Homo sapiens: one gene and its partners. The protein of the gene in region 1 purifies or fractionates together with the protein of each later gene. This does not show direct contact. Each region holds a gene or a part of one and is shown in the gene's direction. Other genes may lie near its edges.

The links.
Region 2: the proteins of TRDN (region 1) and PXMP2 purify together in Homo sapiens (co-immunoprecipitation; 3 studies listed by BioGRID and IntAct, with this or other methods). This does not show direct contact.
Region 3: the proteins of TRDN (region 1) and UGT8 purify together in Homo sapiens (co-immunoprecipitation; 3 studies listed by BioGRID and IntAct, with this or other methods). This does not show direct contact.
Region 4: the proteins of TRDN (region 1) and MANEA purify together in Homo sapiens (co-immunoprecipitation; 3 studies listed by BioGRID and IntAct, with this or other methods). This does not show direct contact.
Region 5: the proteins of TRDN (region 1) and ABCB10 purify together in Homo sapiens (co-immunoprecipitation; 3 studies listed by BioGRID and IntAct, with this or other methods). This does not show direct contact.
Region 6: the proteins of TRDN (region 1) and GOLIM4 purify together in Homo sapiens (co-immunoprecipitation; 3 studies listed by BioGRID and IntAct, with this or other methods). This does not show direct contact.
Region 7: the proteins of TRDN (region 1) and MPV17L2 purify together in Homo sapiens (co-immunoprecipitation; 3 studies listed by BioGRID and IntAct, with this or other methods). This does not show direct contact.

Annotation. Positions count from the first base shown.
Region 1 is NC_000006.12:123,500,548-123,504,817, reverse strand, and holds part of TRDN (triadin), read left to right. Parts: intron 1-916; coding exon 917-1,099; coding exon of another isoform or gene 1,100-1,167; exon of another isoform or gene 1,168-2,990; intron 2,991-4,270. UniProt on the Homo sapiens protein: Contributes to the regulation of lumenal Ca2+ release via the sarcoplasmic reticulum calcium release channels RYR1 and RYR2, a key step in triggering skeletal and heart muscle contraction.
Region 2 is NC_000012.12:132,693,641-132,697,910, forward strand, and holds part of PXMP2 (peroxisomal membrane protein 2), read left to right. Parts: intron 1-2,243; coding exon 2,244-2,406; intron 2,407-4,270. UniProt on the Homo sapiens protein: Seems to be involved in pore-forming activity and may contribute to the unspecific permeability of the peroxisomal membrane.
Region 3 is NC_000004.12:114,601,397-114,605,666, forward strand, and holds part of UGT8 (2-hydroxyacylsphingosine 1-beta-galactosyltransferase precursor), read left to right. Parts: intron 1-4,270. UniProt on the Homo sapiens protein: Catalyzes the transfer of galactose to ceramide, a key enzymatic step in the biosynthesis of galactocerebrosides, which are abundant sphingolipids of the myelin membrane of the central nervous system and peripheral nervous system.
Region 4 is NC_000006.12:95,575,813-95,580,668, forward strand, and holds the start of MANEA (glycoprotein endo-alpha-1,2-mannosidase), read left to right. Parts: upstream 1-1,722; 5' UTR 1,723-1,826; intron 1,827-2,410; exon of another isoform or gene 2,411-2,499; intron 2,500-4,856.
Region 5 is NC_000001.11:229,527,230-229,531,499, reverse strand, and holds part of ABCB10 (ATP-binding cassette sub-family B member 10, mitochondrial), read left to right. Parts: intron 1-1,091; coding exon 1,092-1,301; intron 1,302-4,191; coding exon 4,192-4,270.
Region 6 is NC_000003.12:168,033,026-168,037,295, reverse strand, and holds part of GOLIM4 (Golgi integral membrane protein 4), read left to right. Parts: intron 1-301; coding exon 302-460; intron 461-4,270. UniProt on the Homo sapiens protein: Plays a role in endosome to Golgi protein trafficking; mediates protein transport along the late endosome-bypass pathway from the early endosome to the Golgi.
Region 7 is NC_000019.10:18,191,024-18,196,017, forward strand, and holds the start of MPV17L2 (mpv17-like protein 2 precursor), read left to right. Parts: upstream 1-2,194; 5' UTR 2,195-2,258; coding exon 2,259-2,445; intron 2,446-2,840; coding exon 2,841-3,011; intron 3,012-3,753; coding exon 3,754-3,830; intron 3,831-3,934; coding exon 3,935-4,063; intron 4,064-4,975; coding exon 4,976-4,994. UniProt on the Homo sapiens protein: Required for the assembly and stability of the mitochondrial ribosome. Is a positive regulator of mitochondrial protein synthesis.

The DNA of each region.
Region 1 (4,270 bases):
CATCTATTATGAACAATTTTCCACAAATTATGTGCTACATTATTACTGCTTTTTAAAAGATGCTTGAATGATCCACAGACTAGTTATTTGCATCACAGTTCCCTCTTCCAAAATACGGATAATATCAAATTAAGAATATATGTGTGTAATATATATATGTTCTAATTTATATATCTATTCATATATATTTTTATTTATAGCCCTTTGAATTTCCCATGATATGTTTAAGGGCTTTAAAAACTAGTAGAATTATCGCTGACTTAAGATAAACAGGAGCCAATATCTGAATTTCTTCACTTTCAGTTTTTCTAAGGCCAAATCATTAGACTATAGGTCTTTCAGTTATCTTCTAATGGATTTCATTGTTTTATTTCTGTTAGTCAACACCAATGCGATAATTTTACACTTGCATTACTAATTGTTGTCTTTAAAAAAGACTTTGTTGGCATTTCAGTTTCTTGAATGACCCTTAAGATCTTTCAGTTATCAAGCAAAATGATCATGTGCTTATAAAAGGAGACTACTTCACTGGGCTGTTTGGTATGGAAATTGTCTTTCACAGAAATTCCTGTACATCCATCCCCTGCATGCTACAAATGCCTCCTTGTTGACATGCTAAGTTACTATTGCCTTAAAAAATAGTGTTTTCATGTACAAATTAAAAGCCATAACACTTTTAGTAGTCTATCTAATATAGCACTTCATAAACTGTATAAAACTCTGGTAAGTCACAAGTGTTTATGTTAAGAACAGTATTTTTCATTGTTTTCCTGAAAAATACTGTTCTTAACATAAACACTTGTGACTTACCTTTCTTCCCTCTTTCTTTTCCAATTTTCCTTAATGACATAGTACAGATGAAACATTATGTTTGTAAATAAACAAAAGTATTTCAACATCTTTTAACTTTATACAGAACAGAAGAAAGCTAAGACTGCAGAAAAGAGTGAAGAAAAGACTAAAAAGGAAGTGAAAGGTGGAAAACAGGAGAAAGTGAAGCAAACAGCTGCAAAAGTAAAAGAAGTACAGAAAACACCATCAAAACCCAAAGAAAAGGAGGACAAAGAGAAAGCAGCTGTGTCAAAGCATGAACAGAAAGGTAAACATTCAGAGCAGGAGGCTGCCGGAGGTTCTAAGAGAATATTGGGCAAGAAGCACATGCAGTGAAATTAAAAGTTGAAAAAGACCAAAATCAGACTTCAAATGGGGGTAAAAGACATTAAAGTAAATATATCAGAAAAGAAATACAGTAAATTGGGAATTAATATTTATTTATAAAAATACTAAAATGTGTTCACAGATCTAAAGGGGCATTTTGAAGTATTTTTAAAAGGGGTTTGGAGGTAGCATCCGAAATCATATAAAGATTGGGGATAAATGTTGAATTTTTGAGATATGGAATGTCTATTAAGAGGTGGAATAAAGATTGTATGTGTCATACTCTTTGGAGGAAAGTGGTCCCCCAAAATGACAGCAATTCCTAAGGAGTTTGTGAAGGGGTACATGTTGGAATCATATAGAGTAAATATCATAAAAACTATCCATACATTACTGTTGCATTGGCAAGAGCACATCATTTAGAATATACATCCAATTATTAAATTTATTTAATAGGCAAGATGTTATAGAGAAGACAGTTCTCAAGTTTCTTTTTCAGTTTCCATTGACTAAATTTCTAACTTTAGAAAGCTCTGAATGTGACATATTTCGCCATTCTTCAGCAAGAGTGATGTCAAACTTACATCCCCACTTTGCAAAAATATATCACTTCAATGGAGGTGGCATATAAACCTGAATTTTTATTTTATGGAAGGTTGCTATGTGAATATACAGAGCTGAAGGTTTAGGAGGGCAACTAAGGGTCTTATCGTACCACATCTCTGGCCCTTATTGAATGTTTCTTTTCCTAAGTCCATTCCTGACTCCAGTTTGCTGTATAATCCTGAGACTCCTTTACAGAATACGGGGATCTAACATGTAGAGACTATTCCTGTAATTGGTGTTTCTTGGAGACATTGCAAAACCAAATTTTTCTTTACTTTGTAGCACTTTTGACTAATGTTATCTAAGGACTGTATCAAAGAATTGGTTTCTATTAGATTTTAGTTTAAGAAATCTTACAATTTTATTACAGAGCAGGCTATTTGGAGGATGAAACTGAAATTAATTTTTCCTCATAAGGCACAAGAAATGAAATTTGCAATGCACTCGTACTGTATTTTCATCTTTTTTCTCTTGAATTTGCATTTGTAAACTTTGATTCACATGTAGTATTTGTCAACTCTGATTTATATGACAAAAGATACATATTTTAAAAATATATATTTTAAAAAGGAAAGATTTTTTCTTTTTTTAGTGATCTACAAACCTTTAAATTTAGATAATTTTAATTTATTATTTTAAGATATAAGTCATATTAAAACTTAGGAGCTCTAAAACTTTTTCCAATTTTCAAGGTGATTATATCACCATGAAAAAAATTTAAAAGTTAATTATTACTTCCATCAAAATTATGTCATTAATGAAATATTTTGGTAGACAAAAAGGATGAAGTAAGTAAAGAGAAAATACGTTGAATATAATATTTTACTGTGGTAAAAAAACAGCAGAAATAATCTTTGGATTCACTGGTATGATTACTTAGATCCTGAAATCCTTTACACTTTAGATTGCTGTTCAAAAAGAAAAATAATCACATGAAATCAGTGAAAACCTACAAAGTACATTCTAATTTTTAACCATAAATACAGAGTGTAAAAATTGATGCCAGTTATATTTGGAAATGTCAAAATACTTATCTAACAACTAGGAATGTGAATGTATTTTTTGATGTTAATTTTTCATATCTTTGGGGATTTGGGAGCCACATTTTATTGATAAAAACTCATCACCGGAACACTTTAAAATAATGTTTATTTTCCAGGCCACAAATATTGTATTTCATTTCTATCAGTAATCAGATTTATTAAAGACAGCATTATATTACCATATCCCTTTTCAGTCTACTATTTTTATTTCTACACAAAGAGTTATTTATCTATTAAAAGGACATTCAAATATCATTTAGAGTTTAAAACAAAAGCACAAATGTGATTTTATCAGCTAAACAATTGCAATTGCTAAAGCAAGTCTCAGTATTGAGAACAATTGCCATCAATTATATAAATGTATCATTAGGTAAGTATTCAAAACTTAACCTCTAATGGCAGATCAGACATATAAATATGTCATTTTATTTTTCATTTTTTGTTACTAAGCAAAGATTTAATTAAGAGCATTTTTAAATTAAAGAAAACTAATTACATTATGATTTTAGCTAAGCAAGATAAAGATATAGTTTTTTTTAATTTCTGAGGCTTTGGTTTTGAAAATTTTATATGATGACTTAGTTGAGTTAGCTCAACTAAGCTAACTGTTGAGTTAGCTTTTTGGGCAAGAGAATACTCATTCACATAGTTAAGTTAGACCTAATATGTTTGAGGCATTCTTTTCATATAGATTTCTAAATACTTCTTTTTAAAGAAATAAGGCTCATAGGTCCTTTACTCACTTGGAAACAGATTTTCACATGGGACACATATTTATTAGTAATTATTTAATTACATAGTATACATATGAATATATTCAATGTAGTTACTCTCAATATTGTATATGGAAATAATACATCTCTTTTTCTGCTTAAAGCATTAGGGATAAGATGCATATGTATATACACACCTACCATAAACACACACACACACACAGACACACACACACACCCATCAAATAATCTAGTTTTTATGAACCCATCTAAATCTGTTTGTAGAGTAGGAAGAGTTGGCATAGTCAGACATTGCTCCCTAGTTTTCTGATGACCTCTAGGAGGTCTGTGGGGAAGGAGAAACGAATTTTCCAGCTGCCACACACTTTGCTCCTTCACTCATTCTTTCTTTTAAAACAACTATTTGATATTTGTGGCAGGCAGAGAAAGTATAGCTAATGTGAATCTGTTATAGAGTACTGGACCACATGTGCCCCATCCTCATTACAGGTTTCTTAAAAATTTTTTGTTGTTCTTGACATTCTGCACCCAGAATGTATTTTCCCTTTGTTACTATTCCACAGGGAACACCAACTAGGTATCATTTGAATGACATCTATCACTGCTTCCTGAGAATCAAGAAGGAGAGAAATGGACAGCATGTGTTATTCCAAGAAGGATGTTTATTTGGGGAAAAAGTACTTACAATGATGAGCAAATTAACATTATATAAATTATTATCTCAGAACT
Region 2 (4,270 bases), on another chromosome or scaffold:
CAGTTAGTGAGCGCCCTTGCCAGTTAGTTAGTGAGCGCCCTTGCCAGTTAGTTAGTGAGCTCCCTTAGCCAGTTAGTTAGTGAGCTCCCTTGCCAGTTAGTTAGTGAGCTCCCTTAGCCAGTTAGTTAGTGAGCGCCCTTGCCAGTTAGTTAGTTAGCTCCCTTAGCCAGTTAGTTAGTGAGCTCCCTTGCCAGTTAGTTAGTGAGCTCCCTTGCCAGTTAGTTAGTGAGCTCCCTTAGCCAGTTAGATAGTGAGCGCCCTTAGCCAGTTAGTGAGCGCCCTTGCCAGTTAGTTAGTGAGCGCCCTTGCCAGTTAGTTAGTGAGCTCCCTTAGCCAGTTAGTGAGCTCCCTTGCCAGTTAGTTAGTGAGCTCCCTTAGCCAGTTAGTTAGTGAGCGCCCTTGCCAGTTAGTTAAGTGAGCGCCCTTAGCCAGTTAGATAGTGAGCGCCCTTAGCCAGTTAGTGAGCGCCCTTGCCAGTTAGTTAGTGAGCGCCCTTGCCAGTTAGTTAGTGAGCTCCCTTAGCCAGTTAGTGAGCTCCCTTAGCTAGTTAGAGAGCTCCCTTGCCAGTTAGTTAGTGAGCTCCCTTAGCCAGTTAGTTAGTGAGCTCCCTTAGCCAGTTAGTGAGCTCCCTTGCCAGTTAGTTAGTGAGCTCCCTTGCCAGTTAGTTAGTGAGCTCCCTTAGTCAGTTAGTTAGTGAGCGCCCTTGCCAGTTAGTGAGCGCCCTTGCCAGTTAGTGAGCGCCCTTGCCAGTTAGTTAGTGAGCGCCCTTGCCAGTTAGTGAGCTCCCTTAGCCAGTTAGTTAGTGAGCTCCCTTAGCCAGTTAGTGAGCTCCCTTAGCCAGTTAGTTAGTGAGCGCCCTTGCCAGTTAGTTAAGTGAGCGCCCTTAGCCAGTTAGATAGTGAGCGCCCTTGCCAGTTAGTTAGTGAGCGCCCTTGCCAGTTAGTTAGTGAGCTCCCTTAGCCAGTTAGTGAGCTCCCTTAGCTAGTTAGAGAGCTCCCTTGCCAGTTAGTTAGTGAGCTCCCTTAGCCAGTTAGTTAGTGAGCTCCCTTAGCCAGTTAGTGAGCTCCCTTGCCAGTTAGTGAGCTCCCTTGCCAGTTAGTTAGTGAGCTCCCTTAGTCAGTTAGTGAGTGCCCTTGCCAGTTAGTTAGTGAGCGCCCTTGCCAGTTAGTTAGTGAGCGCCCTTAGCCAGTTAGTTAGCTCCCTTAGCCAGTTAGTGAGCTCCCTTAGCCAGTTAGTTAGTGAGCGCCCTTGCCAGTCAGTTAGTGAGCGCCCTTGCCAGTCAGTTAGTGAGCTCCCTTAGCCAGTTAGTTAGTGAGCTCCCTTGCCAGTTAGTTAGTGAGCTCCCTTAGCCAGTTAGTTAGTGAGCTCCCTTAGCCAGTTAGTTAGTGAGCTCCCTTAGCCAGTTAGTTAGTGAGTGCCCTTGCCAGTTAGTTAGTGAGCTCCCTTAGCCAGTTAGTTAGAGAGCTCCCTTGCCAGTTAGTTAATGAGCTCCCTTAGCCAGTTAGTTAGTGAGCGCCCTTGACAGTTAGTTAGTGAGCGCCCTTGACAGTTAGTTAGTGAGCTCCCTTAGCCAGTTAGTGCCCTTGCCAGTTAGTGAGTGCCCTTGCCAGTTAGCCTAGTGAGTGCCCTTGCCAGTTAGTTAGCCTAGTGAGTTCCCTTGCCAGTTTGTTAGCCTAGTGAGTGCCCTTGCCAGTTAACCTAGTGAGTTCCCTTGCCAGTTAGCCTAGTGAGTTTAATGAAAAGCTCCACAACCAGGGACATGTCTGATGATTCATTATTGAGTGCTTCTCGAAGCCTGGCCCTGTTCTGGGCACTGCAGTGGACAGAAGACGTAGCCTCCCTTGTGGAGCCTGCCTTCTAGGGGGGACGAGAGGCACAGACTAACCTAACATATGAGATAAGGACAGTGCTAGGCAGAAAATGAACCAGGGCCAAGAGTGTTAGCACAGGCGTGCACACGTGCTGGGACGACCTGGAAGCTGACAGTGTGAGGAGGAGCGAGCCAACATAGCTAGGCGGGGACGCGCTGGGAGCAGAGAGTCAACGGCAGGAGCAAGTCTGGTCTGTTAGAGCAACAGAGACAGAGCGCCCCTGAAGCCGACTTATCTGTACAGACCTGTGTGGCCAATACTGAGGGACATCAGGAAGCAGGGGTTAGGACCTGGGATTTGGGGGTGAAGCTAGACCAGAGAAGAGCACATCCAGAGAACCACAATCTGGCTCACACCCCCTGGGGGCCTCAGGTTCTTCTTCACAGGGCCGCTGAGTCACTTCTTCTACTTCTTCATGGAACATTGGATCCCTCCTGAGGTCCCCCTGGCAGGGCTCAGGAGGCTTCTCCTGGACCGCCTCGTCTTTGCACCGGCCTTCCTCATGTTGTTCTTCCTCATCATGAACTTTCTGGAGGTGGGTGTCTGCCACAGCACTTACTGCAGCTCTTCGTTTAGCACAGGGATTCTTCACCTGACATTCTCGGCAGAATTCAGAGGGTCTGCAGATTTTTCACTCAAATTGAAATTTTGCATTTTCTTTTATGAATATAGGAAGCAAACATCTAGTATTGGCAGGACCTGTTTGTACCCAGTAGAGTCACTTTATTTATTTATTTATTTAAAGACAGGGTTTCACTCTGTCACCCAGGCTGCAGTGCAGTAGCACAATCATAGCTCACTGCAAACCTCAAACTCCTGGGTTCAAGCGATCCTCTTGCCTCAGCCTCCCAAGTAGCTGGGACCACATGTGCGTGCCACCACACCCAGCTAATCAGATATTTTTATATCACATCAGTTGTTACAGATATCTCGAAATATAATTTATGCTCATTACTACTTGGACCTGCCATTAGAGGTCTTGTCACTGTGTAAAGAAAGAAACAGGCCGGGCACAGTGGCTCACACCTGTAATCCCAGCACTTTGGGAGGGCGAGGCGGGTGGATCACCTGAGGTCAGGAGTTCGAGACCAGCCTGGCCAACATGGTGAAACCTCGTCTCTACTAAAAATACAAAAAATTTAGCTGGGCACAGTGGCAGTCGCCTGTAGTCCCAGCTACTTGGGAGGCTGAGGCAGGAGAATGGCGTGAACCCGGGAGGTGGAGCTTGCCGTGAGCCGAGATGTCGCCACTGCACTCTAGCCTGGGTAATAGAGCCAGACTCCGTCTCAAAAACAAAAAACAAAACAAAACAAATTAGCCAGGTATGGTGGTGCGTGCTTGTAATCCCAGCTACTCGGGAGGCTGAGGCAGGAGAATCGCTTGAAGCCGGGAGGTGGAGGTTGTGGTGAGCTGAGATTGTGCCACTGCACTCCAGTCTGGGCAACAGAGCAAGACTCTGCCTCAAAAAAAAAAGAAAAAAGAAAAAAGAAACAGGGCCGGGCATGATGGTGCACACCTGTAATCCCAGCACTTTGTGAGGCCAAGGCCAGTGGATAGCTTGAGGCCAGGAGTTCGGGACCAGCCTGGGCAACATGGCGAATACCCATCTCTCAAAAAGTAAAAAATGAGCCAGTGTGGTGATGTGCACCTGTAGTTCCAGCTGTTTGGGAGGCTGAGGTGAGAAGATCCCTTGAGCCCAAGATGTGGAGGCTGCAGTGAGCAGAGATCACACCACTGCACTCCAGCCTGGGTAACAGAGCAAGACACTGGTTCAAAAGACAAAAATAAATAAATAAATAAATAAACACATTAGTCTGTCAAAATTTTTTCTGAATATTTTGATAACTGTATTTCAGTATTATTGGTTCCTTTGTAGTCCTATTTTATTTATTTATTTATTTATTTTTTATTTTTGAGGCAGAATCTCGCCCTGTTGCCCAGGCTGGAGTGCAGTGGTGCGATTTCAGCTCACTGCAACCTCTGCCTCCCGGGTTCAAACGATTCTCCTGCCTCAGCCTCCTGAGTAGCTGGGATTACAGGAGCCCGCTACCACACCCAGCTTATTTTTGTATTTTTAGTAGAGATGGGGTTTCACCATGTTGGCCAGGCTTGTCTTGAACTCCTGACCTCGTGATCCGCCTGCCTTGGCCTCCCAAAGTGCTGGGATTACAAGCGTGAGCCACTGCGCCCAGCCGTATTTTATTTTATAGATTACAAAACATTCTGAGAAGGGGGTCCACAGGCTTCACTAAACTGCCAAAGAGATCTGTGGCACAAGAAGTTTGAGACCCCTACTGATAACACAGAAGAGTTCCGGGCCTGGAGGTTAACCTACCGGCATAATCCCAGTCAGAATCCAACGCATGGGAGGCGTGTTCACCTGCACTCAGCAGGTGTGT
Region 3 (4,270 bases), on another chromosome or scaffold:
TTGCTTTTTAATTCATACTAGGATTTTCCAACATACACCTGGGAATTTCTAAGATATCCTTGGAGAGTGAGAACTTTGATTATTTATGCAAGATATAGTATCTCATTTATTTGACCTCATCTGCATTGGTACTTATTTACATAAGCACATTTTCTCGGTAGCTGACTCTTCACACCGTTTATTACTGAAACTTAAAAAAAAAGAGCCATTATAACCCACAAGCAATTTCTAAATCTTACTGTCTTCCTTGTTCCCTTGGAGAATATTGGATATAAGTTATTCTTTCTTGTTGGGTTGTCTTTATGAATTCATAAAGAATTGAATAGTGCTATTCGCTGAGGTGTATAGAGCTGTTTTTGTTTATAGTAAATGGTCTCAGCCTGCTGGGTTGAAATACTAGAATAGAGACAGAAGTACCATTCTTCTTTTTATGTTTTTTTTTTTTTTCTGGGTCCTCTTTCTGTTATTGGCTATCACTTTCTGCTGCTGTCAGACTGTGAGTGGGCCCTGCTGCTCTATTATCTGTTGTCTTTTTTTCCATCAAATGATGTGGGCTATTGCCCGAGTGTAAATCCTGTAGACTTTGTGACAGACACTTTCAGTTTACGTGCTTTATTTGTGGTTTGGACTGTGAACTGAAATGTTTAGGTTTCCAGAAGGGTGACCTCTATATAAAAGGTTTTAATGTACCTTTTATAGAAAAAATTTGTGTATGAGATCTTTAGGAGGGTGTATTAATTTCAGACAATTCAGTCTTCTGGAATATCTTGGTGTTTCTGAGAAACTGAAGCAGCCTTTAAAAAAAAGTTTACTTTCTTATGATAGGCCCAGATCGTCTTTGTTTAGGAATATGTATACTAGAATATTTTACATATTACTTTCTGCCATTGAAACTTACTAACTATAATGTAGTGTAGTTAATATTTTTCTACCCCGGAAGTCCAGAATAAGAAGTATGATTTGAGAATCCTGCTAACCATACTTGAGGCTACATGAATTATTTAAATATTATTTTGCAAATCTACTTATGGAGGAGGTACATAATCAAATACATATGATTAAAATGGTTTAATTTGATCTTGAAAACAGTGGTAATCATATCTCCTTAATCTGAAGCATTTCACAAACATTCATTCTTTTATTCAACAAATATTTGTTAAAAGCATACTGTGTGCCAAGCACTGTGCTCTGGGGATGTGCATACAATTAAGGCCCTGGGAGGGCTCTAGGTTTAAAAGGGGGAGACAAGGAGGAAACAGGCTATTTTCAATATCTACAGTATAGTGCTGGCTGTTCTGTAAGTGCCGTGATAGAGATACACACACAGTACCCTGAGCAGAAATTTGGAAGTGGTCAATTCTGTGTGGGGACAGGAGATTTGAGGGTTTCTTAGAGGGTGACATAAAAGATGAATCACTGGAGGCAGGAGCAAGATCATGGAGGGCTGTTTGCCATTCTCAGGAGTATGGACTATTTTCAGTTTAAGGTTGTTTTAAACAGAGGAGCTATGTGATGAGAAAACAGCTCTTACAGCAAGCAATCTAGAAGGATGGATCTGAGGAATGTGAGATTTGGATGGTAGTTTAGAAGATATTGGGGTGGCTTTGGTAAGAGAGGTTGAGGTCCTTGTACCAAAGTGTTGGCAGTGGGATGAAAAAAAGGGGTTTGGTTACAACGATATTCAGGTGGTAGAACCTCTAAGATTAGGTGACCAATTTGGTTGGAGGATTGGGAGTGGGTGGTATAGGAGGATGGGATGGGAACTTAAAAGGAGATCCAGATTTGAGAGCAAGAGTGATAGAGTTCAGTTTTAGACATGTAGAACTTGAAGTGCTTATAGAAAATCGAACTGGAGATGTGTGTCCAGTGAATCATTGTATGTGAGTTCTGAGCACAGAGGTCCTGGGCTAGATAGGCAGGTAGATAAATGGTAGGTAGATAAATGGATAGACACACAGAAACATTTAGGAGTTTTCAGTGTATAGGTAATTATAAACCGTGAAAGTTGATAGGTTTTCCAGGGCAAGTACCAAAAGTTAATAGGGAAACAGAGGCCTGGGGAGATCCTAAAATTTAAGAGTTGGGTAGAGAAATAGGAAGCAATAAAGAAAAACGAGAAGGTACAGAACAAGAGAGGCAAGAGGAGAGTTAGGAGGGTGTAACTTTTAAAAGCAGCTGAAAACTGAGAAAATTTCAGAAAGTGAGAAGGTCAGGTACTGAAATGAGGGGGTGTTAGACAGTCTCGGTTCCCACCCCCTCTCGAGCCCCGAATAGCTCTGTGACCTTGAGCTCACAATTTAGTTTCATTTCCTCATTTAGCAAATGAGGGGAGAAGCACCTACTTTATAGGGCTACTGTGAGGATCAGATGAGATAAAATCTATCAAGCACAATGCCTGGGAGGTTACTCCTTTGTGTTTAACAAATGCTACCTGTTTTATGGAAACCAGGACTTGGATTTGTGATTAGAAGGTCCGTAGTCATTTTTGCTTTCACAAGTACTCGCTCTCAGAATTCACAGAGAGTGATTGAAAATATATTTTTAAGATGAAAATTTGATCATACTTTTAACTTTTTTGGTTAGAGGCCAGTAGAATAGCAGCCATTGAAAGTTTTGAAGGGAGCAGAGGGAGCCAACTGAACAAAAGTCCTTGAAGAGAGAGTGGAAGTTGCCTCAAGAGCGTTGCAGAGATGTTGGGTTTCTCAGGACAATCCATGCTTCCGCCAGTCAGGAGGGTCTGGTGGCATATGCATTGTGTTTAAAAAGCACCTGGTAATTAAACCTCCAGGTTTCTAATGTCTTGTTTAAAGTACTCTTAGTATTTTAAGTGTGTTCTAGTTCCTTAGATAATCTATAAGGACATTGATTATACATTTTAGTATTAGCTGAAAATAAACTCAGAAAACAATACAGATGATTTCAAAATTTAACAAAATGTAATTTAATATTTGATGATTCCAAAGGCACCTCTATACCTCATAGGGTCTTAAAAATCAACATGTGAAAAATAATTATTAGCCTGTGTAATAGGGGAAGGACTGATTTGTAGAGGTTTGTTTGCTTTTTTTTTTTTTTTCCCCCAATTAAGACTACTATGGTAATATTTAAATATACCTACTTTTTTCCTAGGATTTTCTGTTTGGATGAAGTGATGCTTTATATTAGAGATTAATAAACATTTTAAATTAGATTTCTATTTTAATATGTGTATAAGTTTTTTACTCTGTAATTACTGCATAATTTGAGAAAATGTTTACATCTATGCAGTGGTTTGGAAGTCAACCAACAATTGCACATAGTACATATTGTTTACTAATTGGTTATAAGGCATATAATAAATATTTGTTGTCCCAATACATGTTTGTTGAATAAAACAAAATTAGATATTCCATATTTTTAAGATGAAATGAATTTTATATCTGTAGTTTTAATATTTAATCATATTCTTTACCTGAAAATCGCTAGCCATACTTTTCGTTTTCAGCACTTCTCTATTTTGCAGTTGTGTTTCAGTGCTTTTTTTTTTCCCACTGTGCTTAGTCCTTCACGATTTATGGCCCTGTTATTTGTAAAGCATAGTAATCTAAGCAGGTGATTTTCAGTTTAGGATTTCTTCTAGTTCCATGTTGTATATTCACCAAGTCAGTTTTAGACTATATATTGTCATGCTCAGCACTCCCTTACAGAGATAACAGATGCCAAGTTGAAATTGACTTATACAGAATGCCACACTTAGGTAAGTGTTTAGGAGTGCATAGCCAAAATAAAAATGGTACCTTTGGTTTATGAATGGCAGGGCATCTAGGACAGTGTAGGTCAGTTCGTATTCTCTGGATGGACATTTATGTAAATATTAAAACATTTAGATTAGATGGAAAGATGTATAGTAGGAACATTTCAGAGATACTGTTTCCTTGTAGCATTGTACTATTTATCTGAATTGTTAATTTGGAATAATCACTATATTGATTTTATTTTGAAGATATAATTTATTTCCATTGACTTGATATAAATAACAGAAATGCATCTGCAAGGAATCCAGTTCATTAAAGAAATTTACATTCGTATCTGATTTGGTAAATATGTGCTTGATTTGGGAATATTATATAACAAAATATTTGTGAAATCATTTTGTACTTTTTAATTGTTTTGAAGAAATTTAATACTCAAAATATTTCAAGACACCAAATCATGACTTTTTAGTTATTACATTAAGCTATAACTTGCTTTAATGAGTAAAAACTGTGGGGCTAATTTTCTTCCAAGTGAA
Region 4 (4,856 bases), about 28 Mb from region 1:
GAATAAAATGCCCAATTGAAATCCAATTTTTTAAATGGATCTTGGCTGGCTCATCCTAAAATTTCAATGAAAGAGTAAAGAGCCAAGTATAGTTAAGGCAATTTTAGACAAGAATCATTAGGAGGAGGGGTTTGCAAAATGTTTTAATACATAGAGTTGAGTGCATGGGTGTTCATTATATTATTATTTGTCCTTTCTGTGTTTAAAGTTGCTACAATTAAACTTTTAAACTTGTAGAAGAAAGAATAGTTTCTGATGTTATGTTGGGAAGAATCTTGTAAGCAAGAAAGCAAAAAGCACAAAATTAAAATGTAAAATATTATTAAATTCAAAAAGCTGTATACTGAAGCATAAAGCTTTTGGCAATCAAGAAACATCATAAAAACTGGAAAGACAGTCCATAAACTAAGAGAAGACATTTGCAACACATGTAACTTACAAGAGAGAATTAAACTAGAAAAAATAAATATTATCTACAAAATAATTTTCAAAAGCAAGCAATTTAATAAAAAATGAGATAAAATTAAGAACAGGCTTTAGCAAAAGGGAAAATGCAAATTAAAAGAGCAATCAGATGCTCTTATCAGCAAAAACTTAAAAAGTCTAACAATAGCATAAGGGTAACGATGTGCCAGTCTAGTTTATGGGAAATGGACTTGTATACAGACGAATCTCAAAACCTCTCAAAACCTAAATTAGTGAAAAAAGGGGAAAAATGAAGAATGATTCACATATGAAATATAAAACTAGGAAAATAGTATTTTTAGGGAATCGTACATATGTAACTATTTTCAGAAATACAACGGAATGAGTAATATAAAATTCAGCATAATGGTGAACGGAAGGAAGGAGATGTTTTTAGAGAGTCTTCTTTCTAGAAGACTCCAAAAATACTGGCATTTTTTTTTTCTTAAGCTCTGTAGTGGGTACCTGGGCATTTTTCATTCTTCTTTAAGATATGCACATGAGATATACTCATATGTATATTTCCCAATTAAAATTGGTGTACAAAATCTTTTTAAGGAGAGCCCTTATGAAACTGTTCACATCAGCAAGTTCTAGCTTGAATAAGGACTTCCTGTTACTATGTAACCAAACAAAAGATAGCATTTTCTTGTTTTCTGAAGCTAATGTAAGATGGAAACCTTCAGTTGTAATCCTATTTCAAAAGTTCTTGCTCTTCACATCTGACTTATCCTCAATTATTTCTAGTACTTCAGTACAGATGTGATTTTATAGAATACATTCGCAAATTAAAAACGCCATCTCCATCTGCCTACCTTGGGCTTCCAAGTAAAGTTCTATTTTTACAAAAATCAAAACAGTTCCTCAACTTTAAAAGTTTGAAAACCAGTGTACTTGTAAAGCACTTGATGCAAGCAACTTCTGAATGTTTCACATAAAAACAAACAAAAATGTGTCCTCTGTAATACAGTTAGAGCCTCCCAACAGAGCCTCAGAAGACCGTTTCTAAAGGCAGTGAGTTCTACTTGCAGAAATAGGGCGGGAGTGCAGTCTGACTCCAATCCACACGTCCTTCCCCTCTGACAGAACGCCCCAAAACGCAGTCCTCTCTTTCTTCCGCGCCGCTCCCGCCCTAGTCCTCTTAGACCCGCGACCGGAGGCTCCGGAAGACCCCGAGCCCCGCCCGCTCCGTGACCCCGCCCCCACCCGTCCCGCCCCTGAAAGCGCCCGGAACGCTGTGCGCGCGCCTTCGGGGAGGAGGGGCTGTCTGGGCTCGGGGCGCGGCGGCAGTCAGCTCTATGTTCGCGGTCTTAACCTCTCCTCTGGCCGAGTCCTTGCAAGAAGTGAATTACCCGACCCTGGTGAGTAGCTGCAGGAGTCAGACCTCTTGGAGGCGGCGGCGCCAGCAGCGGCGGCAGGCACGAGGTCCACCGCGGGCGCCTGCGCGCTCGCCCGCCAGCCAATCTGGTGGCCGCTTTCCTCCGGGCGCCCTTTGACCCGGCGCCCCTCTGGCAGGCGCTGGTGGCGCCCAGCGGCGAGCCTGTAGCCCCCTCGATTAACCTAGGCTGTCACTCTTAGGCCTGTTTTAGTCTGCGTTAGTTTTACTGCCTTTTACACTGCTTTATCCCCACCTCACTGGCCTCGTCGCCGCCTCCTCTTTGAAACGGTACCTCCTGTCGCCTCGGATTTTCCTTGTCTCCCCGACAAGGTGGAAATTTCGGGTCGGATGGAAGCCTTTTTCAGCACCTTCTCCTTGTGCCCCCAGACTGCCTCTGGGCCTTGAGCCGACCGGGAGAGTAGAAGGATCGAGGCCTGCTGGGCTCTGGGTGCAACGGAAAGGTAGCTGTCGCCTCTGGGCATCGGGAGGAGACCGCCCGATGGCGAGGCCGCTAGAGATGGTTTTTCAGTTCACCTGTTAACGTGTTTGGCACTGTCATCTTAGACTCTTAGCCTTTGCTAAGTCGGGATGCAACAGTGCTGGATTAGTGTTTTTGTTGTTCCTTTTTCCAAAGAAGCAACTTGAAGTACAGGCAGGTATAACTGTTTGGTTTTGTTGTTGTAAGACCCTACGGATAAGTGTTAGGAGAAAATGTGGAAGTGCTATAAAACAACAACAAGGGGGGGATAATGTTGATTAAGAACTTGAAAATAAGAAAAATGGGACTGGAATAGGCTGTTCACGTTAAAGTATTGAGGCAGTAGTTTGAAACAAAAATATAAAGTAAAACCTAGATATTGGTGATACTGTATCACGTTGTTTGCAAATCACTTTCATGACAATACATCTATTTCAGGTGTATCACACCTGAAAAAAACATGAGTGCTGTGAATTTGTGGATTTTCAGGCTCAATGCAGAAAAACACCCCCCAAAACAAAAAATCACAACAATGAAAACACCATTTCCAGAGCTGTTGCTGTTATTCGTGTGACGAATAGTGAATGTATGATCATAAAATAGAATAAGCTGTCTTTAGATGAAGTTTGGGCACAGTTTATGGAGTAGGTAACAGTTAATCATTGTTTATTAGGTACATAATCCTTAATTGAAAACATAACCATATAGCAGCAGCTTTCATCTTGTGTCACAAAAATAACTGGTGTATCCTCTAAATTTGATTTGTCTAATACCTTAAAGGAAGGCAGAATAGCATGGACAAGAACTTGAGTTCTTGAGCCAGACTCGATCTGCTCCTTGCTAGGTGATTAACCTTAGATTGGTTTCTTGGCCATTTGCTGGCCCAGAGATTTTTGAAAAAGTTACCAACTGCTCAGCTTCATCATTTGTAAAATGAGGTTAAAAAAAATTCTGCGGCCTGGCGCGGTGCCTCACGCCTGTAATCCCAGCACTTTGGGAGGCCGAAGTGGGTGGATCATGAGGTCAAGAGATCGAGACCATCCTGGCCAACCAACATGGTGAAACCCTGTCTCTACTAAAAATACAAAAATTAGCTGGGCGTCGTAGCGTGCGCCTGTAGTCCCAGCTACTCTGGAGGCTGAGGCAGGAGAATCGCTTGAACCCGGGAGGTGGAGGTTGTAGTGAGCCAAGATGGCGCCACTGCACTTCAGCATGGCAACAGAGTGAGACTCCATCTCAAAAACAAAACAAAACAAAACAAAAAACAGAAACTAAACCTCACTGAATTTCTGTTAACCAGAGGGTACAAGTGTTTACAATAAAACTGACCTGGGCAAGGATTGATTTTGAAACTGATTTTGAAAGTTCCAGATGTGTCTTCTAGTATTGAGTTATATTTATCTCCGGTGGCTTCATACAAAATAAAATTAGAAGAAAACAATATATTTTTTAAAAAAAGCACCAGAAGTCTGTGTGATTTAATTTAGTTAATTGAAAGGGAAGTCTTTTTGGCTTTTGTGAGTTACATGATAAAAGCAAATAATTTTTGAAGTACTAATTCATACCACCCTGCTTCTGAATCTCTTGGGGTCTCTTAGCTAGCTGGATATGTCCAATAATTTTTTATTAGACATCACTAAGCTTCAAGTCAGCATTTCAAAGGATTAAAAGCACAAAACTCAAAAAATAGAAGCTACAGGTTCAAAAGAACCTATTGTGTATGAGTAATGTAAACAGTCTTTTGAGGAGAAAACAGATTTTCAGTAGCCAATACTTTGAGTAGGTCCCTGCCTTGGAAAGATATATCTGCAATAAACTTGTAATATTTTCTCTATGGTGACTTATAATACTTTTCTTTTATTGAAGCTAAATTAGTTCCTCCACCCCTTTCCTGCAAGATCAGACATTTTAGGCATCTCAAGGGTCATTGTGGTTTTACAGCGTTGAAGATGATTTTTTTTATTAAATTGGATTTTTAAAATTATTGGATCTTTACGATTCTTTATAATATGTTCAGTATACACCGTAAACTTATCAAGTGTGTATACGGTCAGTAGTCTATATATACACACACACACAGATATACATATATATATATACACACACACTGCCTGAATACCAATGAAACAGCAAAGAGCCAGAAATTAACTTTTTTAAAGCTGAACACTTAATGAACACTATGTGAAAGATATGTTATGCTCTACTAGAATGTGAAGATAAAGACTCCATTTCTGAAACTTAAGGAGCAATCTAGTAGGTGATATAAAGATAAATGCACAGCATGATATAATACATAAGGAATGACAATTTGGCCGGGCACGGTGGCTCACACCTGTAATCCCAGCACTTTGGGAGGCAGAGGCGGGTGGATCACGAGGTCAGGAGATCGAGACCATCCTGGCTAACACGGTGAAACCCCATCTCTACTAAAAATACAAAAAATTAGCCAGGCGTGGTGGCAGGCACCTGTAGTCCCAGCTACTCGGGAGGCTGAAGCAGGAGAATGGCATGAACCCTGGAGGCGGAGCTTGCAGT
Region 5 (4,270 bases), on another chromosome or scaffold:
TGAGGAGGTGGTCAGGTTTTCTATGAGAGGGGGTGGGACAGCTGCTGGGGCACTGTTGTGGGCCAGGGTGTCCCTGGATGCATGGGCTGGCCACATAGTGTGCTGCCCTCTGTTCCCCTCCCTCCATCTGGGTGTTACCGCAAAGGGCAGGATGGAAGTCAGTGTGGCCCAGGGCTGTGTCCCAGCTAGTTTACCAAATTGATCTTCCCTAGTGATTCTGACATCTCTGTGGAGGGCTAGGGTGGGAATAAGGGAGGAGGAATCAGACATAAGAAAATATCTAAGTTTCTTGGCATTTTGGTGTGGGGTAGGGGAGGCTGGTACTCATTGGCTGGAGCCATCTCCTTCCTTATCAGTGACTTCCCTGGAGCTGTAGGGCCTAAACCAACTAGCCAGGAATCAGGAGAAATGGCTATGAGTAGTAACCACTCCCAGCTGCTTATTGACTTCCTAGGACATTGTCAGGTAGCCCCAGGTCCATAAATGAAAGCCCAATATTCTCCAATGTGATAGGCCTAGGAAATAGGTCCAGCTGAGAGAGTTTCAGTAGTGTCTCCCAAAGCACAGTAGGTGAACACCAGGGCAGAACAGACCTCTGACCCCTCCAGTTCTGCGGCTGCTGTGCAGCGCTCCCCGTTTCATCATAACTCTTCCAAAATATTTATTCCGGGTAGGTAAGATAAACTCTGGAGCTACACAGAGGCAGTGGCATAGAGAGAAGGCCATCGGATTTGAAACCAGACTAACAAGGGTGGATCTTAACTCCACTACTTGTTAGCTTAAGCAGGTTGTTGTCTGTGGTCTTCAATGTCCTCATCAGCAAAATTGGAATTATAATTTCTACCTCTCAGGGTTGTAAGGATCAAGTAAGACCGTCTACGTATATAGTACCTTGGACATAGTAGGTGCAGAGTTGGCACGTGGTAAGCATTTAGCCTAGGTTTGCTTCTGACTTGCCCTTTAAGAGCTCATATACCAGGATTAGCTGTGGTGGAGTCACCCATCCATAGCCAGATGAGTAGGAGAACCGAGTTCAGCTTTTGAGTTTAATTTTTTGCTGTAAGTAATTAATATTCCATTTTATGTTTCAGAGGGGGTCATCTTAAATGAGAAAAGCTTCCAGGGTGCTTTGGAGTTTAAGAACGTGCATTTTGCCTATCCAGCTCGCCCAGAGGTGCCCATATTTCAGGATTTCAGCCTTTCCATTCCGTCAGGATCTGTCACGGCACTGGTTGGCCCAAGTGGTTCTGGCAAATCAACAGTGCTTTCACTCCTGCTGAGGTTGTACGACCCTGCTTCTGGTAAGCAGTTCACCACACTGTAGCACCGAGGGACTCTCCCGAGCTCTGCTCCCACTTTTGCGCCCTAGGAGATGCTCAAACCATGCAAATACCTTATTTTGTAGAGTACCTTCTTTTCTAAGTGCCAGTGGAAAGAAATCCCTCAAACAGAAGGTGTCATTTGCAGGGGCATGACAGCTCATACAGAGGCCTTTAGAGCTTTTTGTGTGTAATGTGTCCTACCTCTTCAAGCCCAGAGTGACTTCCCCAGATCTACCTCCTCATCTCCCATGCGGGTATCTCCTCTGGACATGCCCTCTACTGGGAGCAGGTGGACGAGGCTGTGCTCAGCAGCCAGGACAGAGTGCCTGGGGTGCTCCAGCAGCACCCTGGAGAACCACCGTGTGCCAGTGCGCGTGCTGGGCGCAGGAGTGATAGGGAGCTCCTGGAGAACCTCTGCCTCTGCCTGTGAGCCATTGAATGCTTATTGTGCACACAGTTAACTTGGCCATCAGTGATTCACTTCTTTTTTTTTTTTTTTTTTTTTTTTTTGAGACAGTCTTGCTCTGTCGCCCAGGCTGGAGTGCAGTGGCGCGATCTCAGCTCACTGCAAGCTCTGCCTCCTGGGTTCCCGCCATTCTCCTGCCTCAGCCTCCCGAGTAGCTGGGACTACAGGTGCCTGCCACCACGCCCAGCTAATTTTTTGTATTTTTAATAGAGTTGGGGTTTCACCGTGTTAGCCAGGATGGTCTCGATCTCCTGACCTCGTGATCCACCCGCCTTGGCCTCCCAAAGTGCTGGGATTACAGGTGTGAGCCACCGTGCCTGGCCAGTGATTAACTTCTATGTGACTGTTCCATTGAAACTATTTTGACCTAGTAGGGATTTTCTTTTTTTTTTTTTTTTTTTTTTTTTTTTTTTTTTGAGACGGAGTCTTGCTCTGTTGCCCAGGCTGGAGTGCAGTGGCACGATCTCAGCTCACTGCTGCAAGCTCCGCCTCCCGGGTTCACGCCATTCTCCTGCCTCAGCCTCCCGAGTAGCTGGGACCACAGGCGCCTGCCACCATGCCCGGCTAATTTTTTTTGTATTTTTAGTAGAGATGGGGTTTCACCGTGTTAGCCAGGATGGTCTCGATCTCCTGACCTCGTGATCCACCCTCCTCAGTCCCCCAGAGTGCTGGGATTACAGGCGTGAGCCACCGCGCCCAGCCGGGATTTTCTTAATGGATGATTTTTCTCATTCTAGTTTTTATTTTATTTTTAACTGGATTATAACATCTTTAAGAGCAAAGAGCACATGATTTTACTTCTATCTTCCCTGTAGTAGACAACAATGTCAGCAAGCAAACAACTCTTAGTAAAAATCAAATCATGAATTTAGAAAGAATATTTTGGCCAGATGTGGAGCCCCACACCTGTAATTGCAACACTTTGGGAGGCTGAGGTGGGAGGATCACTTGAGGCCACAAGTTGGAGACCAGCCCGGGTAACATAGTGAGACCCTGTCACTATTTATTAAAAAAAAAAAATTCTGTAATTTAAAAAATGAATGTTTTGTGTCTTTGTGCTTATGCTTTTTGGTTAAAACAATGTGAGAGCTGGTTACATGTCAGATAAATATGTGACTTGCAAATCCTGACCCATGGAATCACCACCTGTGTTAAAATGGGGCTTACTACATTGTTTGTCTCTGGAATCACTTTCTTGATTCACCATTCACTTGCTATAAAATTTGGAGTTTAAAAAAATCCTAGTTAGCTGGGCACAGTAGTTCACACCTGTAATCTCAGCTCTTAGGGAGGCAGAGGTGGGAGGATAGCTTGAGCCCGGGAGTTTGAGACCTGCTTGGGCAATATAGTGAGACCTTGTTCTCCATAAAAAGGAAAAAAAAAAAAGACCAAAAAAAATCCTATTTAGGTTGCTGTAATTCAAGTAAAAATACTGAGTCTCTAGTTTCTTCATCACAATGAATAAATCCAGGACAAAGCAAACTGCAGTTAAATGTCTGCCATGTGTAGTCTATAAAGAGCTTTGTGCTTTTTCGTCAAAGACCTCAAGTTTTTGCCAGTTTGTGAACATTTCCAGCTGGCTTCTATAATTCCACAACATTAACTGAGAAGAAATGGCATTTCTTATGCTGTCACTGTTGTCATCATCACCAAGTTTTGTTGAGCACCCTCAATGTGAAGAATTCTGTTAGCAAAAGTCATAAAGATAGCGTCTGATTATTTAAAAGCTCTGCCATGGTATCGACCAGATTCTTAGTTGCAGACAACAGATTCCTCACCAACTAAGCTTATTACAGAAAGGGATATTTTAAGGAGTAATAAAAGAGCTCAAAAATCACTGGCAGGAATGACAAAATAGATTCTAGATTGTACTTCCAGGACAGTTTGCAGAACTCCACCCCAGAACCAGGCCTTCAAGGTAGCTGCTGACACTGGCATGGTCAGGAAGCTACAAATTTAGGCAGTTGCTGTCATGAATGCCAGCTTCAGAGCTGTGCCACCTCTGCCAGTATTCGTGCCAGCAAGTGGATGCCTCATGGCTTGCCCCTCCCTTCTGAATTAAAGCTTTGCACAAGTGCATCTTATCGGTGGAATCCTAAGTCACTAGGGAGTTTTGGGAAAACTCCCTACAACCTCCGGAGTACAGGAAGGCAAGCTGGACAGATGGACTCGGTGAGATAGTCATCCAGCTACTATCGGGAGACAATAACTTGGACAATCCAGAAAGTCCCTTTTAGCTCTGAAATTTCATGAAATATGTTAGTTTTAGAGTCCATCTGGAGATTTTCAGTACATTTTGATCTTTAAAAAATGAGTCTGGAATTTTCCCACCGGATCCTTTCTGTGTTGGTCATCAGCCTCATCACACTCAGTGACTCTTTCCTTTCCTTTCCTCTCAACAAGGAACTATTAGTCTTGATGGCCATGACATCCGTCAGCTAAACCCAGTGTGGCTGAGATCCAAAATTGGGACAGTGAGTCA
Region 6 (4,270 bases), on another chromosome or scaffold:
TAATAGTGATATTTATATTAGTAAGTTATTTACAAAAGTTCTGACTTCAGTGTAGTATGGGAAACTAACATCTGTCTTAGATATTTTTTCTGTTTCCTTCAGCTCTGTTTCTAATTTGCATGCGCTCAAAAATGATTAAGCATGCCCAAGTAAGAATAGTGAATGCATGGAAACAATCTGTATGTTTTTCTAACTTGTATTTAGGTACAATATTTTTGTCTAGTTTTACAGTGTACCCAAATGCCCATCTATGAATGGGCATTCATAGATTCCCTCCTCAAATTGTGCAATTTATATGCAGACTCAAGTTGCAGAATATAAACAACTGAAAGATACTCTGAATAGGATTCCAAGCCTTCGAAAACCTGATCCAGCAGAACAGCAAAATGTGACCCAGGTGGCACATTCTCCACAAGGTTACAACACAGCAAGGGAGAAGCCAACCCGAGAGGTGCAGGAGGTAAGGGGCGTGAACTGGTAATCTATGGTTAGGTCACTTTCTCTGTCAAGTTGCCAAGAGGGGACCTGCTTTTAATATTGCCAACTTTTCTGGGAGAGCAGTAGTTCTCAAATTTTAGTATATCAGAATTGCCAGTAGGGCGTGATAAAACACAGATTACTGGGTCCCAGGCCCAGAGTTTCTGATTTAGTTAATTTGGAGTGAGGCCTAAAGATTTGCATTTCTAACTGATTTAGCTGGTCTGAGTAGCAAACTTTGAGAACTGCTGCTAGTATTTTCTTTCTTTTTTTCTCTGAGACAGTGTCATGCTACGTCGTCCAGGCTGGAGTGCAGTGGCACAATCTTAGCTCACTGCAACCTCCGCTTCCCGGGTTCAAGCAATTCTCCCTGCCTCAGCCTCCCGAGTAGCTGGGATTATAGGCGCCCGCCACCACGCCTGGCTAATTTTTGTATTTTCAGTAGAGACAGGGTTTCGCTATGTTGGCCAGGCTGGTCTTGAACTCCTGACCTCAGGTGATCCGCCCGCCTTGGCTTCCCAAAGTGCTGGGATTATAGGCGTGAGCCACCACACCTGGCCGCTGCTAGTATGTCTGAGAAAGGCTTTAATGGCTTTGTCTTTATTCATGTAGGTTTATTTGTCTTCAAGGAGTTGTAGTATCTGAGTTTTTCAAGGTTGGGGATTTTGCGGGGGTTAGGGTGAGAACGTTAAATGATCATGAGGATTTTATGTGACAGTCAACCCACTCAAATATTAAAGTTAATAATATATTTTAACTTGGAGCAGTGCTAGGTCTACACAGAGCATGTCAAAATTTGAATTAAATGACCTGTTTGACACTCCTACGGGTATGAGTGCTAGTCAAATAATACACCTTTTTATATTCTTGTTCTTTATAAAAATTAAGCCTTAAGAATATCTCATAAGTGAGACATCAGAAGTAGTTACCATTACCACTAATTTCTACAAAGGTTGTTTTTTTTTTTTCCAATCATCTGTAATAAAAAAATAGGCAATATGGTTATCTTTCTGACAAAGTGGTTGTTTTAAACTTTTAAGTTCAGGGGTACATGAGCAAGTTTGTTACGTAGGTAAACTGTGTCATGGGAGTTTGTTGTAAAGATTATCTTATCACCCAGCTATTTAGCCTAGTACCCATTAGCTATATTCCTGCTCCTCTCCCTCCACCTTCTGATAGGCCGTACAGTGTGTTGTTCCCCTCTATGTGCTTATGTGTCTCATCATTTAGCTCCCACTTATAAGTGAGAACATGTAGTATTTGACTTTCTGTTCCTGTGTTGGTTTGCTACAGATGATGGCCCCCAGCTCCATCCATGCCCCTGCAAAGGACATGATCTTGTTCTTTTTTTATGACTGCATAGTATTCCATGGTGTTTATGTATCACATTTTTCTTTATCAAAGTCTATAATTGGTGGGCATTTAGGTTGATTCCATGTCTTTGCTATTGTGAATAGTGTTGCAGTGAATGTGTCTTTATAATGGAATGATTTCTATTCCTCTGGGCATATACCCAGTAATGGGATTTTGCTGAGTCAAATGGTATTTATATCTTTAGGTCTTGGAGCAGTCTCCACACTGTCTTTCATGATGGTTGAACTAATCTGCACTCCCACCAACAGTGTATAACCATTCCTTTTTCTTCACAACCTCGCCAGAATCTGTTATTTTTGACTTTTTAATAATAGCTCTTCTGACTGGTGTGAGATAATATCTCATTGTGGTTTTGATTTGCATTTCTCTAATGATCAGTGATGCTGAGTTGTTTTTTTTTTTTTTTTGTATGATTGTTGGCCACATATATGTTTGTGTTAGTCCGTTTTCATGCTGCTCATAAAGACATACCCTAGACTGGTTGATTTAAAAAAGAAAGAAGTTTAATTGGACTTACAATTCCACATGGCTGGGGAAGCCTCACAATCATGGTGGAAGGCCAGGAGGAGCAAGTCCCATCTTCCATGGATGGCAGCAGGCAGAGAGAGAGAGCTTGTGCAGGGTAACTCCTCTTTTTAAAACGATCAGATCTTGTGAAACTTGTTCACTATTGTGAGAGCAGCACGGGAAAGACTTGACCCCATGATTGAGTTACCTCTAACCGGGTTCTTCCCACAACACGTGGGAATTCAAGATGAGATTTTGGTGGGGACACAGCCAAACCATATCAGTGTCTTCTTTTGATGTGTGTGTTCATGTCCTTTGCTCACAAAGTGGTTTTTAACATTAAAGAGAAGACTGAGAAAACTTTCCTCCAAGTTATGGGAATAATTAAGTTGATATGAGTAGACTTCATATATGAGCCTCTTCACTCTGTTCAGGGTATTCCTTCAACAGACAGGTTCAGTATCTTCATGGACTCTTATTCTTTCTCAGGCTCTTATGTTAATAACTAAAGAGAGCATGACCAGATCACTGGCCTGGCAGTTGGTTCTATTTTCTGCCCTTGTCAGACTGCCAGTTTACTGGATTAATCTTCCAGTGACTCAGATCTTCAGTTTTTCCATCTCTGAGGTGGAGATAGGAGTTATCTGCACTAACCTTCCTCACTAGGATATTGTGAAGATAAATGACAAGTGTTTGAAAGTACTTAGAGCTCTTTAGAGAAATATTTTTCTGTAAAGCCAGGGCAGTATTATGTCAAACTTGCCAGATATGTGAGGATGTCGGTGGAATGTGCAACTCCAGTTGTCCTCAAATGTCTGAGAAAGGACTTTTCTCCCCAGTTTATTAATACAGTCCAATTTCTCAGATTTGATAATTATATCTCTGCTAATTTAAGAATAGGATTTCACATTTATTTCAATTTTGGGAGAGCAGTCTAACCAAAGAAGATTTTTTTTTCTGAAGGTTAAAGAGAAAAAAAGAGTGACGTTTGTTTCTGTTGATATACTATATTCTCTTTCTTCCTCACTTTCTAGGTAGTGCAGATCATATAGAGATCGCTGAAACTTATAGGGAGAACTGATTTGAGTCAACTAATTTTAGAGGAGGGTTATTCTGAAAAAGCCATTTCTTCTTTTTCTGCTCAGGGTTTTCAATATTAGCAATAAAAAATGTTTACAAAAGAGTCCTGCTGGTTTACAAATAATTACTACTTTAATACATTAAAAATATTTTATTGTATCTTGTTTAACAGGCACTGTGTTGAACTAACATGGATGTTCATTAGTAATGGCATTCTTTTTTTTTTTTTTTTTTTTTTTTTTTTTTTTTTTGAGACGGAGTCTTGCTCTGTCGCCCAGGCTGGAGTGCAGTGGCGCAATCTCGGCTCACTGCAAGCTCCGCCTCCCGGGTTCACGCCATTCTCCTGCCTCAGCCTCCCGCGTAGCTGGGACTACAGGCGCCCGCCACCACGCCCGGCTAATTTTTTGTGTTTTTTTAGTAGAGACGGGGTTTCACTGTGTTAGCCAGGATGGTCTCGATCTCCTGACCTCGTGATCCACCCGCCTCGACCTCCCAAAGTGCTGGGATTACAGGCGTGAGCCACCGCGCCCGGCCAATGGCATTCTTTTTTAAATTAGTAAACCAAACTAGTAAAAACTAAACCCAACTCCTCAATTTTATTTCATCCTTCTCTTTTCAAATAATTACTGAAAACAAAATTTACATTGAAGAAAATTATGTAAACATTTCATCACTTGAAGTTTGAGGTTTTGTTCCTTTTTATTCTAAGGGAAAATAGGAATTAGAGTACTTCTGAGATATTGGTTACTTGGAGGTTTTATTTTCCAGGTTATTTACTGTATTCTTCACAGATGAAGTTTTGCTTATATTATGTCTATTTTATAAGTGAGAT
Region 7 (4,994 bases), on another chromosome or scaffold:
CAATGACGTTTGGCTTATTCTATGACCTGAAAATTATATGAAATGCAAATTTGTGTCCATAAGTAAAACTTTATTGAAACACAATCATGCCATTTGTTGACAAAAAGAGTGAAACTCTGTAAAATATGGGCCGGGCGCGGTGGCTCACGCCTGTAATCCCAGCACTTTGGGAGGCCGAGGCGGGCGGATCATGAGGTCAGGAGATCGAGACCATCCTGGCTAACACGGTGAAACCCTGTCTCTACTAAAAATATAAAAAATTAGCCGGGTTTGGTGGCGGGAACCTGTAGTCCCAGCTACTCGCCAGGCTGAGGCGGGAAAATGGCGTGAACCCGGGAGGTGGAGCTTGCAGTGAGCCAAGATCGCGCCACTGCACTCTAGCCTGGGCCACAGAGCGAGACTCTCTCAAAAAAAAAAAAGAAACTCCGTAAAATATTTAAAGAGGTTAATTCTGAGCCAAACGTGAGTGACCACGGCCCTAGGCACAGCCTTTTTTTTTTTTTTTTTTTTTTTTTTTTGAGACAGTCTCGCTCTGTGGCCCAGACTGGAGCTATCTCGGTTCACTGCAACCTCCACCTCTCGGGTTCAAGAGATTACCCTGCCTCAGCCTCCCGAGTGGCTGGGATTACAGGCGCCCACCACCACGCCCCTGGCTAATTTCTGTATTTTTAATAGAGATGGGGTTTTACCATGTTGGCCAGGCTGGTTTTGAATTCCTGACCTCAGGTGATCCAGCTGCCTCCGCCTCCCAAACTGTTTGGGATTACAGGCGTGAGCCACTGCGCCTGGCCAATCCCCACCTTCTTGACTGACCATTTAAAAAATGTAAGAAACACCTTTAGCTCATCATGAGCAGCACAAAACAGGCAGGGACAGGATTTGGCCCTGAGGCAGGAGAATAGGTCTGGAGGCAGGGAACATAAGGCCAAATCAAATGGAAACAATTCAGCTATGACAGGAAATATCTTCTCCATTTAAAGAGGGCATACATCCAGTAAATGACTTTGTAACTTTACTTCATCCTCTTCATTTACATAGGACGTACATTAAGTAACCAGTGAAAACCTCTAGAGGGCATTTAAACCCCAGAAAATTCTTAAACAGGTCTCTTGAGTCCGTATGCTCCACTGGCTCCCACCCTGCGGAGTGTACTTTCGTTTTCAATAAATCTCTGCTTTTGTTAAGCTTCATTCTTTCCTTGCTTTGTTTGTGCACTTTGTCCAATTCTTTGTTCAAGATGCCAAGAACCTGCACACCTTCAACAGTTAACAGCCCACAGGCAGTAGTTTGCGACTCTAGTAGAGAATGCATAGGGATTTCCATTGAAAATCATTTTTTAAGCCAGTTACGGTGGTTCACGCCTATCATCATCCCAGCACCTTGGGAGGCCAAGGCGGGTGGATCTCTTGAGGTCAGGAGTTCGAGACCAGCCTGGCTAACATGGCAAAACCCCTGTCTAGACCAAAAATACAAAATTAGTTGGGCGTGGTGGCCCGTGCCTGTAATCCCAGCTGTTTGGGAGGCTGCGACACGAGAATCGCTTGAACCCGGGAGGGAGAGGTTGCGGTGAGCCGAGATCGCGCCACCGCACTCCAGCCTGGGTGACAGAGCGAGACTCCATTTCAAAAAAAGAAAAAAAATAATTGTTCCCTACGGGAACGGTATAATTAGGATATAATTGTTTCTGGCCACAGATCACATCCCTTCTGGTTAAGTCCAGGAGAATCTGGAAATACGTAGGGCAACCAGGCCAGAAGGCGTTGTAACTGCCTAAGATTGACCAACCCTAACGCGGGAGGCGGGACGACGGTCACTGATTTGCCAGCGTGACGCCGGTCTGCGACTGGCCAGTGCCGTCCTGGGCGTGTCGGTAGGACGGGGCTGCGACGGTTTCCCATAGGCTGGCACAGAAAGGGGCGGGGAAACAAGAGTGCAACGTTACCAATCGGCATGCGGGACGTAACGCAATTCTTTTTTCCGATTGGTCCGTGAAGCTCGGGAGGTCGTTGGGGGCTCGACCTTGGGATAGAACGCCTGCCTTTTATTGGTCAATACTCTTCGGGCCGGGCAATGTGGCTCCCCGAGGCTGCCTGCGATTGGTGAACGCGTCGCGGCTCGGGGCGGACCTGCGGACTGAAGATCCTTATGCGATTGGCCGGGGAGCCGGAGGGGCGGGCAATTTGGGATCGACAGTGACTCGCGACTGGTCGGCGCGGCGAAAGCAGAGCGGCGCGCCGGTTCCTTGGTTCCTGAGGGCGATGGCGCGGGGTGGCTGGCGCCGGCTACGCCGCCTGTTATCCGCGGGGCAGCTTCTATTCCAGGGCCGCGCGCTGCTCGTCACTAACACGCTGGGCTGCGGCGCGCTCATGGCGGCCGGTGATGGCGTGCGCCAGTCCTGGGAGATCCGCGCCCGGCCCGGCCAGGTTTTCGACCCACGGCGCTCCGGTGAGGACGCCACGCTGCTTAGTCCTTCACCCCGGGCGACCTTTGATCCCGACACCCGACTGCGGGCCGTGACCCCTGACCCGTGGCCTCAGTCCCCCGCAGGACCCTTGCCCTGACCGCGCCTCTCCCCGGGTGTCTGTCTCCCCGCAGCTCTGGGTCTCCATCACCTCCCAACCCCCGGAGGTCTCTGCCCACTACCCAGGAGCCTCTGGAGCCGCGCCTCCTGGTGGGGCTTGTAGTGGAAGAATGCACGGGTGGGCTCTTCCGGTTTTCCCGGTGAGGCTGAGGCTCCGGGATGGCATTGGGCTTACCCAGGCCTTAGCCAGGGAGGGAGAGAGGGAATGGACTGAGGAACTTGCCGGCCCGACCCAGCCCCCTGACTTACACTCTTATAGCGAGCATGTTTGCGGTGGGCTGCAGCATGGGTCCCTTCCTGCACTACTGGTACTTGTCGCTGGACCGCCTATTCCCTGCGTCTGGCCTCCGAGGCTTCCCAAATGTCCTCAAGAAGGTCCTCGTGGATCAGCTGGTAGCCTCTCCATTGCTGGGCGTCTGGTACTTCTTGGGTAAGGAGCCTCCTAAGCCTAGGCTTTGCCTCTCATAGGTCGGGAGGGGTGGAGCCAGCTTTGTGTTAAGAAGGATGCAGAGGTGCATTTCCAATTTGCCCCCTGTTTGGGTCGCCCTGGACTAGGAGCCAGGTCACAGCGGGGACAGGACGGACTCGGCCGATGTGAACGCTGGCGAGTGTAGGAGGGACGAGGACTGTATCTGTTGGGGCTGCCCTGGGCGGGAGGTTGAGAGCATTTCCCAAAGAAGGGGACCACACTCAGTTGAGACATGAAGAGGGAACCAGCGGGCAGAGGGAACAGCTAATGCAAAGGCTCTGAGGCCTGAAGGAAGAGAAATTGAGGCTAGACTTAATGGGGTGCAACCGTGCCAGCCCTAGGCTCGGTAAAGACAGCGGTATTAATAGAGGAGTCTCTCATTCTCCACCTCCCAGCCCGGCTTCCTGGTCTGTGATGGAAAAGTAACACAACTCCCTCAACTTCAGGGTGTCTCCATTGGGGCACGTGTTTATATGTTTATAACCTCTCTTTCTCTCACTGGGACTGACTTGCTCTGTTTTGTCTCTACACCAGCTACCCTAATTCTCTGTCCATCCCATCTGAAAGTCCCTGTCCCTCTGCCCGGGGTGGGCGGCGTGGGCTCTCAGGGGCCCAACCCCGCCCCCTCCATCGTCAGCCCATCTTGTCGTCTCAACAGTACTTCCTGGCCTCTAACACTCTCATTTCTTGGTTTGCTTCCCAGGCCTTGGCTGCCTGGAGGGTCAGACAGTGGGTGAGAGCTGCCAGGAGCTGCGGGAGAAGTTCTGGGAATTCTACAAGGTGGGAGCACCCGCCCCTTGCACATGTCCGGCCCCGCCCCCTGATGGCCGCTCCGCCCCCGCCCAGCTCTGGCCCCGCCCCTCATCCCCCGCCTCTCCCCGCAGGCAGACTGGTGCGTGTGGCCTGCTGCGCAGTTCGTGAACTTCCTCTTCGTGCCCCCCCAATTTCGAGTCACCTACATCAACGGCCTGACGCTGGGCTGGGACACGTACCTGTCCTACTTGAAGTACCGGGTGAGTGTGGAGGGCATACCAGGCACCCAGGGGACTCCCCAGGGGGCTACACGTGTGAGCTCCAAGTGGCAGTGTAGCCAGCCACCCTGGAGGGTGGGAGTCTCCTGTGCTCCTGACAACCCACACCCAACAGTGGGCTGGCGGAGAGCTCCTCACTAGCAGTTAAGACCCAGCCGTGGCTGAGCGCCGTGGCTCATGCCTGTAATCCCAGCACTTTGGGAGGCCGAAGCGGGTGGATCGCCTGAAATTGGAGTTAGAGAGCAGACTGGGCAATATGGTGAAACCCCTTCTCTACTAAAAATACAAAAAATTACTGGTACGCACCTGTAATTCCAGTTACTTGAGAGGCTGAGGCAGGAGAATTGCTTGAACCCAGGAGGCAGAGGCTGCAGTGAGCCAAGATCATGCCACTGCACTCCAGCCTAGGTGACAGAGCGAGACTCCGTTTCAAAAAAAAAAGACCCATGCCGGGCGCGGTGGCTCACGCCTGTAATCCCAGCACTTTGGGAGGCCGAGGCAGGCGGATCACGAGGTCAGGAGATCGAGACCGTCCTGGCTAACATGGTGAAACCCTGTCTCTACTAAAAATACAAAAAAAAAATTAGCCGGGCGTGGTGGCGGGCGCCTGTAGTCTCAGCTACTCCGGAAGCTGAGACCGGAGAATGGCCTGAACCCGGGCAGCGAAGCTTGCAGTGAGCCGAGATCGCGCCACTGCACTCCAGCCTGGGCGACAGTTCGAGACTCCGTCTCAAACAAACAAAAAGACCCAACCCTTCTCTGCTGTCTGATGTGACCTCAGCCCGGTCCCTGCCAAGTCTGTTGAGCAGGGCTGACCTCTGGCCCAAGGGCAGGTAGAGGGACAGGGAGGGATGAGCCAGGCTTCTGACCAGATGCCTTGTCTTGTGTGGACAGAGCCCAGTTCCTCTGACAC